Homo sapiens: one gene and its partner. The protein of the gene in region 1 purifies or fractionates together with the protein of each later gene. This does not show direct contact. Each region holds a gene or a part of one and is shown in the gene's direction. Other genes may lie near its edges.

Evidence for each region.
Region 2: the proteins of UBL7 (region 1) and RAD23B purify together in Homo sapiens (affinity purification with mass spectrometry; 2 studies listed by BioGRID and IntAct, with this or other methods). This does not show direct contact.

What each region holds. Positions count from the first base shown.
Region 1 is NC_000015.10:74,447,855-74,451,442, reverse strand, and holds part of UBL7 (ubiquitin-like protein 7), read left to right. Parts: coding exon 1-7; intron 8-583; coding exon 584-641; intron 642-1,373; coding exon 1,374-1,507; intron 1,508-1,767; coding exon 1,768-1,817; intron 1,818-2,089; coding exon 2,090-2,257; intron 2,258-2,842; coding exon 2,843-2,965; intron 2,966-3,588.
Region 2 is NC_000009.12:107,285,907-107,289,778, forward strand, and holds part of RAD23B (UV excision repair protein RAD23 homolog B), read left to right. Parts: intron 1-3,872. UniProt on the Homo sapiens protein: Multiubiquitin chain receptor involved in modulation of proteasomal degradation. Binds to polyubiquitin chains.

The sequences.
Region 1 (3,588 bases):
GCTCTTGGTAAGTGCAGGACTGAATTTGAGGAAATAGGAGTTGTCGGAAAAGGAGAAAACAGGAGAAGACAATTCCTCTAAAGAGACTTGGACTATCTTTTGAAGAATGACTGGTCTTGTGGGAAGAGGGAGAGTAATCAAGGTGTGTTTGATATCCCCAGCCCTTTAAGAGCTCTCAGTCCCACAGAGAGATAATGGCCTAACTAACATCGTAAATAAGGGTATGAGGATGCCAAATGAGGATAGCAGTTAGCCCACATCACAGCAATCAGGGAAGGCGTCCTGCACACCCTGAGTAAGGGAAGAACCCAGAGATACGGGAGAAAGAGACAGGTGTCTTGGTACCCAGTCTGTGATGTGACTAAAGTGCAGGGGAGGTGGAGAGCAGGGGACCATCCTCACTAGACCAAGATGAGGAGTACCTGAATTGTATTGCTTGGCGCTTTGCTTCCTCTACTTCTCATGAAGATTGGCTTGTTGTCCTGTGTCCCTGTTGAGCTGGTTGCTCTGAGACGCAAAGCCTCTTCTCCCTCCTGGATCTGGCTGATTTCCTTTCTTTGAGGTGAGCTCTGCTCTTTTTCAGGGGTTCTCCAGGACAAGGACCTCTTCTCTGTCTTCGCTGATCCCAATATGCTTGATACGTAAGTGTACCTGTCCTATTAGAGGGTACCTTCTCTCTCCTCGTGCTCAGGCCAGAAGCCTAATTGTCACCCTGCAGTCTGCTCTGGGAGCCCATCCATAGTCTGTCACCAAGTCTACCCCTTAGATACGTCAGGGGGTGAGAAAGAGCAAAGCCCAAGAGCAGGGCTTTTGTCAAGAGTGCTGGGAGGAAGCAGGATTCTGAGGGAAAGGGTCTTGTCTGCCAGGCTCAGTTTAGGTTTCGTGTGGTAGAAATTAGGGAGCTTTTCAAGGATTTTAAGCTGGCAAAAGGAGAAGCAGGTGTACAGATCCGTAAAGTGTCAAAGCTAAAAGGGACATGTCCTCATTTTGCAAGTGAAGAAAACAGCCCCACCCTGGGAAGAGAAGGGACCAGTCCAGGGTTGCCTGATGTAGTAGTGGTGCCTAGACCAGACACTCCTCATGTGCTCAGGCCAGAACCCTGAGCCTCCCAGGCTGCACCTTTCCCATCATGCCTTGCCTGTGGAGAGGGTGAAGAATCTGCAGCGGACCCCAGGAATTTGAAGGCCTTGCACCCGTTGCTGGGGGCAGATCAGCAGGAGGATAAAGCTTCCTGGTGGAAGATGCTAAAGACTGAGGAATTTGAGAGCAGGCACAGGTGGCTGCATTGTTGTGAGGGGGCACCCAGAACTCCTGTTATGGCTGAGGGTGCTCTTTTGGAGTCACCCTTGGGTTTCTTCCTGCTTCTATCCTAGGTTGGTGCCTGCTCACCCAGCCCTCGTCAATGCCATTGTCCTGGTTCTGCACTCCGTAGCAGGCAGTGCCCCAATGCCTGGGACTGACTCCTCTTCCCGGAGCATGCCCTCCAGCTCATACCGGGATATGCCAGGTGAGCGCCTGAAAAGTGTAATGTGGGCCCCTCAGGAGCCGGCAGTGGCCCAGGAATTTGCTTTACTCAGCAGCTATGTATAGCGTTGGCAGAGGGCGTTCCTTGGGAACTCTCGGTTTGAGTCAGGAAGTGCATCTGTCCTGTAATTTTCCGAGGGGAGAGATGAAAATATGAATTTGGAGAGTAACTTGAGCTGAGATTCTGGAGCTGCGCCTGTGCCTTTCTGTTCTTCCTCCTGAAATCTGTTCGTCCTCCTCCAGGTGGCTTCCTGTTTGAAGGGCTCTCAGATGATGAGGATGACTTTCACCCAGTAAGTGGCCTGCCTGCCTGCCTGACATGCTGACATGTGGGGGAGATGGTGCTGGGAATGAGCTGCATCCTGGGACCTGGCACTCCCAAGGCTGGGAGATGGACATACGCCATTGGGGGGCCAAGACCATGTCATACTATTTCTGCTTTTGGATTCCTTTCTGAACCTGGGAACTTAAGAGTTTCCCCAAGAACTATTGCTGGAGGTGGGTGGAGTTCATCTGGGAGTTTCACAGTACTGCTTCCCTGATTCTGAGTGTCTTCTTTCTCCAGAACACCAGGTCCACACCCTCTAGCAGTACTCCCAGCTCCCGCCCAGCCTCCCTGGGGTACAGTGGAGCTGCTGGGCCCCGGCCCATCACCCAGAGTGAGCTGGCCACCGCCTTGGCCCTGGCCAGCACTCCGGAGAGCAGCTCTCACACACCGACTCCTGGCACCCAGGTATGAAGACGGGGCCGGGAAGATCAAGGCTGGGCCCCCAAGGAACAAGCTCCCCAGCAGTAGAGTAGATTTGCCTTTGCTGACCCTGGTGCTAGATCTAGTTTAAGCTGAACCCTGGAGTCCTGGTGGGGATTTCTTACTGCAGCTTGAGTGACCTCCCCTTCACTTGCCTTGAGGACTCAGAAGTCTAGATTTTAACATGGTCCCGTGTAGTCCCCCCTATTAGTTCAGAAGACTCTTCCTGCACACAATATGCCCTTCCTCATCCCTGACAGGGAGCAGACATCACCAGCTTAAGCATTTCTGGGTGACAAGTCACTTCAGCTTTCAAGGCCATCTCTCCCAGTGCTGCAGTGCTGGGGTCCTAGGCTGGGACAAGGGGCTCAGTGCAGAAGAGAATGGAACCTTTCCTGCCCACATAGAGAGCTTCTAGTTACCTTTGTTTGGTTGTCTTATGGCAGGTCTTTGTTGGGAGGCAGAAGTTGGGTACCTCAGGAGTGCTGTGAGGTGATATGACAACAGCGAGCATCTGCTATAAGATTGAGATGGCGCTGAGGGTGGCACTGACCACTAATTTGTCTCTAGGGTCATTCCTCAGGGACCTCACCAATGTCCTCTGGTGTCCAGTCAGGGACGCCCATCACCAATGATCTCTTCAGCCAAGCCCTACAGCATGCCCTTCAGGCCTCTGGGCAGCCCAGCCTTCAGGTCAGTCTTCCCCACGTCTTGGTTTCCATGTGGCTTCCTTGTTATTTTGGATGCCCAGCCTTTGTTTTGCTCTCTGGCGGTCCTTCACACCTGGCATGCTTCATTCTAGGAACAGCTGGAGCATGGCAGTGGGACAGGTGCAGAGTGTTCCTAGCAAGGGCACACTCTCAGACCATACACAGTGGTCACTAGGCTTCTCCTGCCCCTAGTGACCATGGCCTGACTCCCTAGACCACCTGGCTTAGATAATCATGGCCATTTCATTCATTCATTCAGTGATCATTGACTGAGCATGTGTATACTAGGCCTGAGTCCAGATGCTGGGCTAGTGGCAAGCTGGTTCTCATCCCTGCCATGGAGGGGCACCAGGCAGGCACTGAGCTGGGGAGCAACAAGGCAAGAAACCCAGCTGCTTGAAGTAAGGGCCTAGGTCAGACAAAACTTTTCTGAGAGAGGGGTATTTAAGCTGATTGTCAGAAGAATTAGTTAGAAGTTAGCTAGCCAGGGAAGGGGGTTTGAGGTAGGAAGGGGCTGATTTCCAGGTGAAGACAGCTACCTGTTTGTGCACATGTGTGGAGGTATATGTGACATACTCAAAACTACAAGGCTAGGATGCAGTGTCC
Region 2 (3,872 bases), on another chromosome or scaffold:
TTAATTAGTATGTGTTTTTGATACGACACCTTAGAATTCCAGTAAGAAAATAAACAATGAAAATTATGTTTTCTAGGGCAACGCTAAGTGTCCTGTTTCTAAGTTGTTGTGAGAACGAGGTAACCAAGGATATTAGAAATAGATCTAAAATAAGATAGGATCTTATTGAGACCTGTTTTTGGTCTGGTCACAGATTTGTCCTTGTTTAATTTTTACCTAGAAGGAACCAAGGAAATTAAGTAACTTACGTAGCCAGTATAGCAACTCTTGTGAGCTTGAGATGAGCATGAGCAAAAATGGAAGAAAGGACTGTGAGATAAGTGGAATCATGGGAATGATTCATTTGTTGAACAAGTAAATGTTTAGTGAGCTTTGCTGGCAGGACTGGAGGAGTACAGGGACCTGTAGAACGTGGTCTGGGGCTTCTGGGAGCCTTATTGACTTAGTCAAAGCTCATTGGCTATAGAGTAGGGGGATATACAAAATGGAAAGAGCAAGATAATTTGTTTTAAGGTGTTTTTATTTGCCCTAGTTTTAACAAAACTTTCTTAGACTTATTAGGCATTTTGTACCATTTACTTGACTATTACTGTGATACATTACATGACCACTGCCTTTAGTGTTAATCTTTGCAAAGATCTTTTTGTTTCTACAATTGTAATGCAAGCCTTCTTATAAAATATTCAAACAATATAGAAACAAAATGAGAAGGTGGTATGTGTGGGGTAGGGAGACCATTGCTAGGAGATTTTCTTCATTATGTGCTTTTTTTGTTTTTTACTGTAAAAATTGTGGGAGACTTTTAAGTAGCCTACATATTAAAGCATTTTGAGATGTGTGATAGAGCACTGCTTCTCTGAAATTCTTAAAAATTCTGAAGTTTAGGCTGGGTGTGGTGGCTCATGCCTGTAATCCCAGCACTTTGGGAGGCCGAGGTGGGCGGATCACAAGGTCAGGAGATCGAGACCATCCTGGTTAACACGGTGAAACCCCGTCTCTACTAAAAAAAATACAAAAAATTAGACGGACGTGGTGGCATGCACCTGTAGTCCCAGCTACTTGGGAGGCTGAGGCAGGAGAATCGCTTGAACCCAGGAGGCAGAGGTTGCAGTGAGCTGAGATCACTCCATTGCACTCCAGCCTGGGCGACAAAGCGAGACTCCGTCTCAAAAAAAAAAAAAAAAAATTCTGAAGTTTAATGGTGTGATGGACATTTAGAGGGAAATGGAATACAGTTTTTAAGCTCAGTTTTATAGTCAATTAGTGTTTTATATTACTGTTGCTTAAAAACATTAAGAAAGGTAGATTTAGGAATAAACCTTTTGAGATAAAAAAAATACAGTGCAGTATTTTATTGCATCACTGAAATGGTGACAAGAAAAAGTATGTGATATACAAATTAATCCTGCAGTCTAACTCTTGACACTGTTTGCCTTGAACAACTAAAAACAAAACTCAGTAAATTTGAGATGAGACTTTAAATGCAAAAGCTGAAATGTGATTGGATTAGTATATAAGTGACATTAAAATTCTACATATACATTGGATGTTTTTGCTAAGAGAATTGCAAAGACATCAGTTTTAATATCTATAAATAGCATATTAGTGTGCTGTGAAGAATTACCTAATTTCGTGGTTTACCTCTATAATGTGATTGTTATAAAATACTGCTTTACCCAGCACCTTGGGAAGCCGAGGCGGGTGGATCACCTGAGGTCAGGAGTTCCAGACCAGCCTGACCAACATGGTGAAACCTGGTCTCTACTAAAAATAGAAAATTAGCTGGGCATGGTGGTGCATGCCTGTAATCCCAGCCACTTAGGAGGCTGAGGCAGGAGAGTCGCTTGAACCTGGGAGGAGGAGGTTGCAGTGAGCTGAGATCGCACCATTGCACTCCAGCCTGGGTAACAAGAGCGAAACTCCATCTCAAAAAAAAAAAAAAAACAAAAAAACTGTGTGTGTATATTGCTTTAGTACTTGCTCTGTATTATACAGTATTTACTAGCCATCATTTATTAGTGAAGTATTCCTGTGGTGGTTTATTGTATTTTCAATATAGTCATGCTAGATACAATTTCATATTATACAAGCTTCCTAGATTAAGGTAATGAGTAGTAAATGTATTAAAAATACTATATCACAGAGGTGAAATTAAGAGTTCTTGGCATATTGGCAGAACAAGATACAGGAAGAAACTGAGAAATCTGGTACATTTTTGCCAGACTTTTGCTGTTTTGATGCCGTGCACACAGTAGGCATTTAGTAAAGATCTTTGAATGAACTGAATATATTCTTTTGGTGAACTGGCAAAGCAGTGATCCCCCAACGTAGTGTGTTTGCATGTTGATTTATTTATTTAATAAATATTTGCTGTGTACTTACTAGATGTCAGGCCCTGCTGTGATGGTATGTGCATTCTAGTGGGATAAAACTGTCAAAAAATACATTTTAAAAACCAGGTAATGGTAAGTGCTATGCAGAAAGTTGAAATAGGATAAAGTATTTGATAATACTTCACTGGGTGGCTACATTTTTGTTGTTGTTTTGTTTTGTTTTTGAGATGCAGTCTTACTCTGTAGCCCAAGCTGGAGTGCAGTGGCGCCATCTTGGCTCACTGCAGCCTTCGCCTCTGGGGCTCAAGCGATTCTCCTGCCTCAGCCTCCCAAGTAGCTGGGACTAGAGGTGTGCCCCACCACACCTGGTTAATTTTTTTGTATTTTTAGTAGAGACAGGGTTTCATCATGTTGCCCTGGGTGGTCTTGAACTCCTGAGCTCAGGAGATCTGGGTGGCTACTTTTAAATTTACTAGTCACTGAAGGCCTTTCTGAATAAGGTGACATTTAAGCTGAGAGCTGAGTAAAAATGAGCACTCGAGAATGAAGAGAATGTTTTCTATAGGGAACTGCTAGAGCAAAGACCTTTAAGAATGTGTTTTGGGTACTGAAAAAAAGCCTGCATTGCTAAGGTGATGGGTAAGAGATAAGGGTGAGTTGGGTAAGAGATAAGAGAGTGAGTTAGGCAAGTGAGTTAGGCTAGGGGTTTTCAGGGTAAACTTGGAAACATTTACAAGCAGGACAGAAATCTTTGTTTCTTTGTCTCTGTCTCTCTTTTCTCTTTTTCCCTCCCTTCCTCTCTCCCTTCCTCCCTCCCTTCTTCCCTTCCTCCCTCCCTTCCTCCCTCCTTTCCTCCCTTCTTCCCTCCCTCCCTCCCTTCCCCCTTCCCTCTCCTTTCCTCTCCTTCCCTCCTTTCCTCCCTTCCTTCCCCACTCCTTTCCCTTCCTTCCTTCCCTTCCTTTTTCAACAAGGTCTTGCTCTGTCACCCAGGATAGAGTACAGTGGCATGATCATAGCTCACTGCAGCCCCAAACTCCTGGGCTCAAGTGATCCTCCACCCTAAGCCTCCCCAGTAGCTGGGACTACGGGGGCATGCCACCACGCCCAGCTAATTTTAGTTTTTTTTTGTAGGGATGGGGTCTTGATGTTTTATCCAGGCTGGTCTCCAACTTCTAGCCTCAAGTGATCCTCCTGCCTCAGCCTCCTAAAGTGCTGGGATGACAGGCATGAGCCAGCACACCTAGCCAAGAAATATTTCTTGTAGGATTTTTAAAGGTTACTTTGATGCTGTGGGGTGGGCAAGAGTGAAAAGCAGAGACATCAGTTAGGGGGCTTGTGCAGTAGTTTTAAGTAATTGCAGCTTGAACCAGGGCAGTAGGAGTGGAGATGTAGAGAAGTAGATGGAATTAGGATATGTTTTGAGAGGTACAGTTGGCTGTACCACTTGCTGTGTCACCTCAGGCAAGTTACTCAGTATGTGCCTTTTGGTCCTCTGCTGTAAAATGAGAATACTAGTATGAAAGTACTAACTTATTGGTA